Regions from separate parts of the Homo sapiens genome. Here region 2 is reported to be linked to region 1. Evidence: microRNA targets listed by miRTarBase, many of them from high-throughput screens and not tested one by one. Region 1 holds a microRNA gene; the other region holds the end of a gene's coding sequence.

Region 1 (3,409 bases):
TCTCAAGAAAAAAAAAATAATAAATTCATTGAATGATTTTACTGTGATTATTTAGTTTGGGTCATTTGGATTTTTTATTTTTCTACAAACAATACTGCAATAAAGATCCTTAACACAAATGTATTTGGCAACTATTAAAGACTATCTCCTACAAGTAGATTTTTCTGTGTTAACAGACACATTTAAAAGTCAGAAACAGGGCCAGGCATGGTGGCTCACGCCAGTAATCCTAGCACTTTGGGAGGCCGAGGCAGGTAAATCACCTGAGGTCAGACTGACCAATGGGAGGCTGAGGCAGGAGAATTGCTGAACCTAGGAGGTGGAGATTGCAGTGAGCCAAGATTGCACCACTGCACTCTTGCCTGGGCAACAGAGCAAGACTCCATCTCAAAAAAAAAAAAAAAGTTGGAAACACAATGTCAAATAATCCTCCCAAAAGATTTTGCCAATTACATTTCCAAAAACAGTATGCAAAGGTGCATTTTTCCTTACACCATCAACACTGGGTATTACTAATCCTTTTAATATTTTCCAACTGAATAAGGACAACAAAAAGGAGGGCGTGTGTGCATGGTGGTGCACGCCTGTAGTCCCAGCTACTCGGGAGGCTGAGGCAGGAGAATCGCTTGAACCCAGGAGGCGGAGGTTGCAGTGAGCCCAAATAGTGCCATGGCTCTCCAGCCTGGGTGACAGAGCAAAACTCTGTCTCAAAAAAAAATAATAAAAAGAAATCTCATTATATTAATTTGCATTTCTTTGATTAGGTTGAAAGTGCTTATGGTTTTTGGCCCTTGAAATTTTTCTTTTTTGATTTTTTTTTTTTAAATGGAGTCTCATTCTGTCGCCCAGGCTGGAGTGCAGTGGCACGATCTCGGCTCACTGCAAGCTCCGCCTCCTGGGTTCACGCCATTCTCCTGCCTCAGCCTCCCAGTAGCTGGGACTACAGGCGCCCACCACCACGCCCGGCTAATTTTTTGTATTTTTAGTAGAAAAGGGGTTTCACCGTGTTAGCCAGGATGGTCTTGATCTCCTGACCTCGTGATCCGCCCGCCTCAGCCTCCCAAAGTGCTGGGATTACAGGTGTGAGCCACTGTGCCCGACCTTCTTTTTTGATTTTTAAGTCTTCTTGTTGATATGCTGTGTCCATTATTGTTATTGGGATATTCTTAGACATTTGTAAAAACTCTTTACATAGTAGAAAAATATGTCATCTGCTGGAATTTTTTTGTTCAAGTTCATCATTTACCTATTAACTTTGTTTTTGATGTCTTTTTCAATGTGACTTTTATGTAGTCAGGTCTATTAATATTTTACCTTTTAGTTTCTGGCCCTGTGGTCATTCTTATAAAGTCCTTCACTACCTTGAAATCAGTTTAAAAAATTCTCTATGCCCCCGGCACACCAAGAATGACATATGTATAACTTAGGAAAACCAAAAGTATTTACTTGAGGAAAAGTAGCATGCAGTGATATTGATATTCTAACAATTATGAAAGCTTCCTATTTGTGGTGTACAAATGGGACACAAAATAGAATGGTACTAGGTTACTTCCACTTTTGTTTTTCCACTAAAAAAAAACAAAGGAGGATAAGCTATTACTACTTCCTTCTTACTTAAGATAAAGTTAACAATACCTACTGGCCCTAAAAATTTTGATACTAGGAGAGAGAGCTAGTTCCTATTTACTGTACCCATAGTTAATCTGGCCTATTCAAACCATAAAGCTTGAGCAGTTGATATGGACACGTCTCCCTATCCTTAGGAAACACAATGAGAATGGTGCGCACTTTGGTAAAAACAAATGTTCAGTTCTCCAGCTACAAGACTATTATTCCATTCCTTAAGTAGCTAAACCAGCTGGAGAACAATGCTGGTAATTAGGAATCAGTCCACAAGGGATAGCCCTTTCTCCTTATAAATGTCACAAGGACTGTCACCCAGCAAACACATTCCTAACCCCTTCTCCCTTGCTTGCTCTACCTGGAGTGGCAACATAACACAGTTCTGGCCAATGAAATACAAAAAGTTTGCTGAAGGGAATTCTGGGGAAGGTTTTACTTTTCTGATTAAAAACAAACAGGTATGGCTGGCACAGTTCTTTCCTCTTCTTCCTGCCTTGAATGCATGTTTGATGGCGTTAAGTTGCAACAGCCATCTTGGGACCACAGGGGAAAGACCAAGAGATGTTGGCCCTAACACCACCGAGAAGCAAAAGCCATGGACAACAATTGCCTACCACCCCTAGAATTATCCTGTCACAAAGATGAACTTCCATTTCCTTATGCCTCTGTAGTCAGGTTTTATATTTTTTATAGGCCATACCCAAATTAATCCTAATAGAGTCATTTTCAAATAATTTTTATGTCTAGCAAATAGTAGACCTTCAAAAATTAGGAGTTAATATTGGTAAGATTCTGGAAAAACTAAGTACACCTCAAGGGATTCAAGTAAAATTCCAACTAAGAATGGCATAAAGTTGATTTCTGAATGATTTCATAGTACTATGATCAAAAGATACCACTAATATCTAAACTAGATTTCATTTTATGCCTGGGATAATAACGTAACCTTAAAGGGTTTGGTTTAATTTTCAAAATCTAGTTTTGCTTTCTTCTTGATATAATTTTTTCACAGCATCCTGACAGGGAATCTAAGATGCACTCACTTTACTCTGCAATTTTTAAACAGACTGGATCCAGAAATGAACAAAAAACCATGGCCATATCTAGACATTCACTTGCAAAGCACAGGATAGCAGATGTGGTCACAAAGCCAGACACAAATGTACTCAGAACCATCCATAGGCTGTTTTGTGCTCAAAGTACTGAATAAACCAAATAAAAAATAATAATAGTATTTGTCAAAATTTGCAGATCTCATACTTTCAGACAAGGAGGGGAAAATCTGATGGCATTTGGTAGCAAACAAAATACTCTAAAATAAAAAGTTTATATGTAGTTTGAGGGATAAAACTGGCAAAAACCACCTGTGCCTATGTTATGACCAATAATTTCACTTGGTAAATATGTTTAAAAATGCTTCTCATAGCATTATTTACAATGATGACAATTAAAAGCCATTTAAATGTCCAACAATCAGTGAATGGCTAAATAAATATTATAACAATATTATTTCGTCATTGAAAAATTTTAATTATTTTAACGACATGAAAATGCTCTCAGTATATAAAACATTTCCTGAATATAATTTCAATATAAAAAAGAAAAACAGGAAAATACTGAAAGGGAACTTACAAAAACTGAAATGAAATGCTGTAAGATGTTAAAAGTGGCTGTCTTCTGTGTAGGTGTGAGTGTATATACATACACTTCCCGTCTCTGCTGACAGGTCTAGAAATAGCAATACTCACTAACAAGGAGCACCCCTAGTACCTAGATCTTGGTTTCT
Region 2 (3,409 bases), not on the chromosome of region 1:
GGAGCCAAGGGAGATAAGGCCCAGCCCTTAGGAGTTAGGGCTGAGAGGGGAGCCCACGCTCTCATACCCAGCAAGCTGCAGAGTGATCAGACAGCCCATTCCCTAGGATCGCAAGTCCTACAGCTGGAAACAGCGGCTCTTCATCATCAACTTCATCTCCTTCTTCTCGGCGCTGGCTGTCTACTTTCGGCACAACATGTATTGTGAGGCTGGAGGTGAGGCCAGGATAGGATCCACAGGCGGTCATGAGTGGCTGCGGGGCAGCAATGATGTTTTTGATAATGGGCAATGGTCTTGGGGACTGGCTGCCATTGTGTTCTCTGTGGCAGACCAATGGTGGTGTGATTTATCAAGAGGCCTCTGAGCGGGTAGCTGGAAGTTCACCATGTCCTGTTCCTTGTGTCCTCACAACAGTGTACACCATCTTTGCCATCCTGGAGTACACTGTTGTCTTAACCAACATGGCGTTCCACATGACGGCCTGGTGGGACTTCGGGAACAAGGAGCTGCTCATAACCTCTCAGCCTGAGGAAAAGCGATTCTGAACCCTTCAGTCCTGCTTGGGAGGACGCAGCCCACTGCCCAGAAACAAGAAACACGATACCATTCTGGCCTTCCCCACCCCACATCCTCTCTTGGCCTTACTGAAGATGGGGGAAGGGTAAGAAGGAAGGGTGTAGGCCAAGGCTCACCCCAGTGCTGCTGGCTTCTCCTCTCCACCCCTCATATGGGCGTGGGGTCCTCAAACATCACCTTTACCTGAGAGGCCCCAAGAAGCTGAGCTGGCAGAGAGCTCCACCATTTGGTGCTAAAAAAAAAAACGTCCTGAGGTTCATGACCACCATCCAGTTTCTGGCCTTTACACAGTCACCTTTCACTGAGGTCAGGAGCCCCTGAGCAGTGGCTGCTCCCTGACAACCACAGCCATTTCTCTGCACGGGGGTCATTCATAGGACTAATGTATTTCATGATCTACTGTGCACATCCAGGCCTGTGGCCACAGTCCCCTGCTAAAGTTGCTCAGGTGTTCTAGTCCTGACTTCACCTTTTTGATTTGGTGTGTGCCCTAGGGTATGTACCCTTCCCCATCTGAGCCTCGGTGTGTCCATGTGTCTGGCGGGGGATGGGTGGACTGTATGATTTCCAAGGACTCTACCAGTCAGTGGTTCTGATGTCATCGGGTGGAGGTGGTGTTCTATACCTAAAGGATGACCTGCTCCAGAAACAGCACCAGCACAGCATGTATTTTCTTCTCTTCTGAAAGTTCTGGCTTGTAGACCCCTCCCCTCCTTTGCAAAGGTATGGGATAGAGGGGTCAGATGCAGATCTCTACTGTAAAATGGGCTCCCTGGTATCTCCTGTCTTCCCTACTGCTCCAAACCCTAAATTTTGGTTGTACATTTTATTTGAAAGGAAAATAAATTTTTTTTTTGGGCCAACAGTTGCCTAGGCTTGCTAGTCTTGGGGCTCATCTTGTTTGATAGGAACTGGGAGAGAAACAGGCTCAAGAATGGGGAGGGAGTAAGTCCACGGCAGGGTATGATTCCTAGCAGAACCCCCCAGTCCCCCTTAGGTCTGGAGTCTCCTAAAGCTGGTCTAAGCCTTTATTTTGGTGAGCAGGAGTGAGTGAGCTATCTGTAATGATTCTAGGACTGCAAGCTAGGGTACCTGGAAGTCTTCAGTTGAGACAGAGACCTGGGTTCAAATTCCAACTCTTGTTGTTAAAGCTGTCCTCTTGGGGATGTGAGGTACAGCTGTCACATGCATGACTGTGGGAGCATCTGCCTTTAGACTAATGGCTCTGAACCTCTCCCTTTCTGAGCCCTAAGATCAAGAAGTCTTTCCTCAGGTTTTGTGTCTGAGTCCACTACAGCATCTGTGACTGGGCCCCAGAGCAAGACTGCCCCCTCCAAGGGAGCCTAGAGCTTTGTTAGGGAAATTGAGGGGTGAGGGGACCACAATGAAGCCTATTGTCTACTAGAAGAAACAAAAGGCTCCCAGTCTCTGGGGAGCCCTAGCCCATGCCCACCCGCTAATGCCCAGCACACAGGGAGGAGCCGGGGCCACTGGAGACAGGAGGTTTTATTGATGCTGATGGGGGTAGGAAAGGTCCCCAGAAGCATGGGGGCTGAGTCAGTCAGCAAATGCGTAAGGCCTAGGCACAGAGGAGCAGGTTAGGGCACATTCACCTTCTCAGGATTCTGTGGCTCCCTCATTGGAGAAGGGAGAGAGCATCTTGGGGGCGCAATTCCAAGAGCAGCGAGGGCAGAGGTTAGAGATGGCTGAGAGCCCCTAACCTGAGGCGGCACCACAATAGGCAGCAACAACTGTGTGGAAAGCTGGATGAACTGGTCAGTAGCGGAAAATGGGAGGGGGCACTGGGTTGGCCTCTTGGGGAGGGGTCCAACCTTGGCTTGGATGAGCTCATGAGAATACCCAGTGTTCCCAAGCAGAGGGGGGCAGAGCCCAAAGCCCCTTTCTCTGCAGGCCTCCTTAAGGAGAAAAAGGCACTCAGAGAAAAAGGCATTCAGGGAACCCCCTGGAAAGGGGTGCCAGAATTAGTCCTTAAGGCACAGCTGAGGCGGACAAGGCACCAAGGCACAACTGGTGGGGGGAGGGCAGGGGCAGCCTCCAAGCCAAGTGCCAGGGTCACAAGAGGATGCAGGACCGCCCACGCTTGATCGGCGTGGGGTTGAGCACAGCCCGGACAGCCTCGGCGAACACTTCCTTGACACCATCCTGTTGCAGGGCTGAGCATTCGAGGTAGCGCACAGCGTGGATCTGCTTGGCCAGTGCCTGGCCCTGCTGCGGTGTGATGGGCGCCTGGCCCTGCTCCTTGAGGCGCCGTAGGGTGTCAGGCTGGGCTCTCAGGTCCTTCTTGGTGCCCACCAGCAGGATGGGCACATCAGGGCAGTGGTGGCACACCTCTGGATGCCACTTGTGCCGCACGTTCTCATAGGACGGCGGACTGGCAATGGAGAAACAGATGACGAAAACGTTGGTCTGAGGGTAGGAGAGTGTACGGAGGCGGTCATACTCCTCCTGGCCCGCAGTGTCCCACAGGTTCAGGTTCACTGTGCGCCCGTCAACTGCGCTCTGCGCGCTGTAATTGTCGAACACGGTGGGGATGTACTCTTTGGGGAAAGCGTTAGTTGTGTAGCAGATGAGCAGGCACGTCTTGCCCACAGCCCCATCACCCACCACCACGCACTTGATGCTCTGCATCGTGGGTGCAGTTGCTGTAGTGGAGGCAGTGCCTCCTCTCTCTTCTGGACCCCTCTGGCTGCAGTGACCTGTGGACAGATGAAAGGGGACATTCTTGGTTAGGGAGGCCTCTGCCTATTGGGAAGAAAAGATGGGGGCACACAAAGGGAAACCGGCTCCTGTTCCCTTAACCTGACACTATCCC

What was found. Region 1 holds the annotated microRNA hsa-miR-2909 (GUUAGGGCCAACAUCUCUUGG, at 2,178-2,198, opposite strand). A microRNA usually pairs through its seed, bases 2 to 8, with sites in the 3' UTR of a target mRNA and lowers its output. Matches are read on the target gene's strand: a 7mer-m8 pairs with bases 2 to 8, a 7mer-A1 pairs with bases 2 to 7 and ends in A, and an 8mer does both.
Region 2: miRTarBase lists RHOG as a target of hsa-miR-2909. Seed matches in the 3' UTR shown: 7mer-m8 at 2,175-2,181.

The regions. Positions count from the first base shown.
Region 1 is chr17:37,032,537-37,035,945 of GRCh38, reverse strand. It overlaps MIR2909 (microRNA 2909), which reads right to left and starts at 2,201; the gene lies at 2,133-2,201. The region is part of intron 11 of AATF (apoptosis antagonizing transcription factor); the gene reads right to left.
Region 2 is chr11:3,824,914-3,828,322 of GRCh38, forward strand. It overlaps RHOG (ras homolog family member G), which reads right to left. Exons shown (of 2, transcript NM_001665.4): 2 at 2,065-3,293. The coding sequence starts at 3,225. The coding sequence ends at 2,650. PGAP2 (post-GPI attachment to proteins 2) reads left to right here. Exons shown (of 7, transcript NM_014489.4): 6 at 107-215; 7 at 415-1,458. The coding sequence ends at 545. Among named protein-coding and RNA genes, the nearest start is that of RHOG, 14 kb to the right of the region's middle.